Regions from separate parts of the Homo sapiens genome. Here region 1 is linked to region 2. The links come from fine-mapping of genetic effects on gene expression. A gene starts in region 2. The other region holds a variant in brackets. All regions are shown on one strand. Distances are from middle to middle.

Region 1 (2,923 bases), 240 kb after region 2:
TTCTTGCCCTAGGCCTTAAGAATGTTAAGTTTAAGACAACTGAATATTTTATTAGATATAAGAATGCAACCACATATACTCAAAAACATAAATGTCAAACTAGTAGTCCCTACTTCTAAAATATAATGAAATATTCCATTTAACATTATATTTAGAGTGGATCCCTTATGGAATCATGACATCTTTGCTGATTTAGTTACAGTTGAACTAAGTATTTTGCCTGAAATCAACACTTTATTTTTCAAAACTCCCAAGATATAGTGTGTGACAGATATGTCTTCCACTTATTTTTTTAACCTAGGCTTTATTAATAAGACAAATTATTAGTCACAAATAAAACCTTAAAAATACAGTTCAGCCTTATTTACAACTATTTAGTTACCTAAAATATCCTACATTATACACACACAGGCGCACACACACATATTTCTAATAGAAACTATAAGAAGCAGCCTCGACAAATCAAGAGGACATTATGTTACGTAAAATAAGGTAAGAACAGAAAGTTAAACACTGCATGTTCTCACTCATATGTGGAAACTAAAAAAAAGTTGATCTCAGAGGAGGAAAAAGTAGAATGGAATATACTAGAGACAGGGAAGGGTGGGATGAGAGAAGGATAAAGAAAGATTTGTCAAGGGATACAAAATTAAAGCTAGAGACAAATAAGTTCTAGTGTTCTATAGCATTGTGGGATGACCGTAGTTGACAATAATATATAGTTTCAAATTGCTAGAAGGGGTAAACTGAATGTTCCCATCACAAAGAAATAATAAATTTTGACATGATGGATATGTGAATTACACGAATCTGTTAACTATTCATTGTATGTATCGAAATATCACTACATACCCCATAAATATGTACAATTATCACGTCAATTTAAAAAATATAATAATTAAGAAAAAATACAAAACATTAAATAACGGTGATAGTAGATTTGCCCTCTCAAATATTAAAACATTTGATAAATTTACATAGTTAAAATAGAGGGTAAATATAGAAAAATAATAAAAATTGTGATGAAATCTTGGTGATAACTTGACAGTGCTACTTTGAATATTAAGAATAGTGTAGCTGGCTGGGTGCAGTGGCTCATGCCTGTAATCCCAGCACTTTGGGAGGCTGAGGTGGGTGGATCACCTGAGGTCGGGAGTTTAAGACCAGCCTGACCAACATGGAGAAACCTGTCTCTACTAAAAATACAAAATTAGTTGGGCGTGTTGACAGATGCCTGTAATCCAAGCTACTTGAGAGGCTGAGGCAGGACAATCACTTGAACCCAGGAGGCGGAGGTTACGGTGAGCTGAGATTGTGCCACTGCACTCCAGCCTGGGCAACAGAGGGAGACTCCATTTCAACAACAACAACAACAACAACAACAACAACAAAATATATATATATATATATATATATATAGTGTAGCAGAACCAAAATTTAACAGGTGCAAACCTTTAAATAAGTGTATCCTCTCTAAATGATTTGAACTTGCTTATGGATAATCAAGGTCATAATGTTTGGGACATAAATGCCTGCATACTTATACCAAAATATATCAGCAGTTACAACTAAAATGATCTTACATATTATTTGTCATATCAGGACTATTACTATTATTATAATTACTATTTTTATTATGCTGAAGGTATATGA[T/C]AAATTTTGAGATGTGATTGATGGATGCTTAGGTTTGAAGAAGCAAAATTAGAGAAAGAGCTTAAAGGTGTCTCTGATATCTTCCTTTCTCCCTGGATATGGGCTCTGTAACTACTACATTCAAATATAATCTGGAATATCTAAGGTGCTTTCTTCACAATCTTCCACAAGGGACTGAGAATCATAATGAGACACATTAATGAAGCCTAGTTATCATCTGATAATACTGTCATTAACATTTATTATCACATAATTAGATTGTGCATTAGCCATTTCTCAGAGCCACTTTAAAAGAAAAAAAAAATACGAGGACATATATGAGAACAAACACTGTAAGGAGTGCCTGTATAGTGATAATGTTTCAGAGTGAATGAGACATTTTATCACCTGGCATATTAACAGTGTGAAAGGACAGGGATCATATCAACCTCTCCCCTTCTTCTCTCTATCCTTTACATATTAGTTACTTGTTAAATCTTCTACCTTCTCAAACTGGAGCAATTATCTTAGCAATGACAGTTTTAGTGATGGGAGCAAATCATAATAGCTGTGGGTAATTGTTAGAAAGAAATGACTATAAATCATGCTGCTATAAAGACACATGCACACGTATGTTTATTGCGGCATTATTCACAATAGCAAAGACTTGGAACCAACCCACATGTCCAACAGTGATAGACTGGATTAAGAAAATGTGGCACATATACACCATGGAATACTATGCAGCCATAAAAAATGATGAGTTCATGTCCTTTGTAAGGACATGGATGAAATTGGAAATCATCATTCTCAGTAAACTATCGCAAGAACAAAAAACCAAACACCGCATATTCTCACTCATAGGTGGGAACTGAACAATGAGATCACATGGACACAGGAAGGGGAATATCACACTCTGGGGACTGTGGTGGGGTGGGGGGAGGGGGGAGGGATAGCATTGGGAGATATACCTAATGCTAGATGACGAGTTAGTGGGTGCAGCGCACCAGCATGGCACATGTATACATATGTAACTAACCTGCACAATGTGCACATGTACCCTAAAACTTAAAGTATAATACAAAAATACAAAAAAAAAAAAAACACAGCTCTGAACTTTATAGGTCATGATATCTCTGTAGCTTGTGGGTTTAGCTGCATTTTGAAAAAGATAACTGTGTCTCCCTTAGCATCTTCCTTTTTCCTATTTTTTCTTGTAAGTTTACAAAGGTCAGATGCCAGTATGATCTAGAATAAGAGGTTTTGTGGCTGACTTTGAAAGGTTACTTTA
Region 2 (2,923 bases):
CTAGCTCCAGATCTTTTAAAGCCACCCCAACACGTGTTCTCATTTCATTAACTGTACTGTGTTTTGAAGATGTCAGTGTTTATAATTAAATAGCAGTAGACGGAGTTTATCGCTCTCATCGTACCCCGCTCCTCTTCAAAAAAGGAGCAGTGGACACCTACCTGACAGAAAGTTCTCTTCAATAAAGTTAATGAAACAGGCGTGTTTGAATTCGAGAAGTCTATTATTAGACTTTTAGACACTCCATGAAAGAGTGCAGGGCCCTGTTACTTTAGAAATATACTTGGGGACTGGCAAAAACTGTCATCTCTGATTTTAATAGTGGACACATTTACTCCCTGCTTCCATTCTCTGGGCTACTCTGCGCTCTTGGAGCGAGATGGGAAATTTTGTCAGGCCGCAGCAAGGACGGATTTATGTTGATAGTCATCAAACTCGCCCCGGGCTGCTTCCAGAAAGCTAACCGGATTACTTGTACGCGGTTCCCAGCACTGTCCTTTGCAGTCAGCTTGTCGCTGGCGCCGATGGGAAGAACTGAAACGCCTCAAGGGTGGGGACGGCGCCCCCTGCTGGTCGCGCCCTCGGGCGACGATAAGAGACTGAGGACCCGAGCCCGCGCGGGGAAAACTGCCCTGAGCTTGGCTTAGGGATGGTCCGCAGGCCGCCTGGTGGGAGCAGGACCGCCGTGGCCCGGTCCGTTCTGCGGTTGCGTAGGTCATAGAAGGAAAAGTGGTTTGTGATCTGATAGGGAATCTGAGGACAGACCCAGGGAGAGCAGAAATAAGCGCGCCGCCGGGGGGTCGCCAGAATTGGAGGCTTGTGCGCCTCTGACAAGTATTTGCAACATAAGTATGCATATGGATAATGTATCAATACACACGTGTAATAGATGCCAAACAAATTCTTCAAATAATTGTCACACATTTAAATTTTCAGACATTCACAAAATCAAATGTAAAATATTAAACTGAAAGTTCACAACTTAAATTTTCAAAAATTAAATCTAATTAAATTTCCAAAGTTGAACTGTTTTCAAAATTAAATTTTAAAATATTCAAAATTCCGAGGTAAATTTCCAGAAATAGTTAAAACCTCAAAACTCAAAATTTTTAAATGAAATTTATAAACTTTAAAAGGTGAGTCATTCCTCAGCTGGAATCGCACCCGGGGCCCTTGAATAAAATGCTATTTTGATCGCTAGAACACATAGAAACTTCTCTAAAATTGTTCTGCAAAATTCCCTAAAAAGCCGGCATCAACCCGCCTTTTAGCGTCTCGACAAGGCGTTCTATAGGGTAGGTTATATTTGGGGATCTGCCTTTTCTGGTTCTGCCTGTCCTGAGTTGGAGATCTGACCGGGAATCTGAGCCTAACCCAAGTTTCCCATCCCGCTTCCACGCTCTGAATCAGGCTTCCGACCTGACACACCACTTCCTCCCTCTCCCCTCGGCCTTCCCCTGGACCCGACTGTATTGCCCAATCATTTCCTTTCATTTGTCATCACCACCTTGGACCCGCCCCCTCGTCTCAGGCCGTCGCACGCGTTTTGCGTCAGTTGGCAAGGCACTTTACGGCCGTCGTGCCGCTCGTGTCAGTCAACATGGAGGCAGAGGAATCGGAGAAGGCCGCAACGGAGCAAGAGCCGCTGGAAGGGACAGAACAGACACTAGATGCGGAGGAGGAGCAGGAGGAATCCGAAGAAGCGGCCTGTGGCAGCAAGAAACGGGTAGTGCCAGGTATTGTGTACCTGGGCCATATCCCGCCGCGCTTCCGGCCCCTGCACGTCCGCAACCTTCTCAGCGCCTATGGCGAGGTCGGACGCGTCTTCTTTCAGGCTGAGGGTAAGTATGCAGGCCCTGACGGTGACAGGAGGAGGTTGTCGCTCGCTGGCGGGGTGCAAGCATGCATGTCCTGTTGCTTCGCTGCGCGAGGCTGAGGCACGAGTTGCTGGATTTTGGGGGTGGGGAGTGCGGTGCTTGGCTCCTGGCTGGTGAATCAGTCTGTGAGGATGCTGGGGTGGGCGGGCGGAGGGGATATGGGGAGAGTGGGTAGCGCAGTGTGTCTGGTGGTTCTTTAGTTCTCGGATTGTTACTATTTGTGTTCTTATCCCGGCTCTGTTCACCTCTCTTTCCGGACCTGTTTACTGGTTTGTTACATGAATACAACCTGAGTAAAAGTCTCGTCAGCTTTTCTACAAAACTGAACATAACTCTTTAGCATTGCTGCCTAGGTCAAGAAACTATTTGATCAACCGCCCCTCTTCTTTCCACCCTCAATTTTACATTGAGGCTGAGGACTTGTGCCGGTTTTAAGCAGCGTTCAGGGCTGGCCAGATTAAGGAGTGGACAATTAAGGAAAGAATTGAGTTAGCTAGAGGAAAGGGTGCGATTTACAGTTCCCTTCCTCCTGGGCAAAAACTCTTCAGGTGGGACTCCCACTGGCAGATGTGAAGAACGTTGCGGGCAGTGGGAGGTGCTTTTGAGTGAGTGCTGCATAGGCGTCCTGGACGGGTCTTTGTCTTTGGCGCGCAGACCGGTTCGTGAGACGCAAGAAGAAGGCAGCAGCAGCTGCCGGAGGAAAAAAGCGGTCCTACACCAAGGACTACACCGAGGGATGGGTGGAGTTCCGTGACAAGCGCATAGCCAAGCGCGTGGCGGCCAGTCTACACAACACGCCTATGGGTGCCCGCAGGCGCAGCCCCTTCCGTTATGATCTTTGGAACCTCAAGGTGAGAAGATAGATCTTTCTGCCACACCTCTCACCCTCCCTTCTCCCCAACTCTGGCCCAAGTATCCCCATGGCCTCTCATTGGCCTTGTCCCCTTGTCTCATCTTTCTCCCTAATCTGCACTATCCTGATCTTTTCTTCTTTTCTGCCCACAGTACTTGCACCGTTTCACCTGGTCCCACCTCAGCGAGCACCT

What was found. PIP is the estimated chance that this variant, and not a neighbour inherited with it, causes the effect.
Region 1: its variant is the best candidate, but not a certain one, in a credible set for the expression of ABT1 in fibroblasts (GTEx, PIP 0.72).

The regions. Positions count from the first base shown.
Region 1 is chr6:26,838,775-26,841,697 of GRCh38, forward strand. All of the region lies in intron 1 of LOC124901290 (a long non-coding RNA gene), which reads right to left. Among named protein-coding and RNA genes, the nearest start is that of TRA-AGC14-2, 12 kb to the left of the region's middle. The variant T/C (reference allele first, on the strand shown) is at 1,654.
Region 2 is chr6:26,595,383-26,598,305 of GRCh38, forward strand. It overlaps ABT1 (activator of basal transcription 1), which reads left to right and starts at 1,571. Exons shown (of 3, transcript NM_013375.4): 1 at 1,571-1,841; 2 at 2,532-2,728; 3 at 2,883-2,923. The coding sequence starts at 1,601. RefSeq lists enhancers at 453-602, 703-862, 1,420-1,859.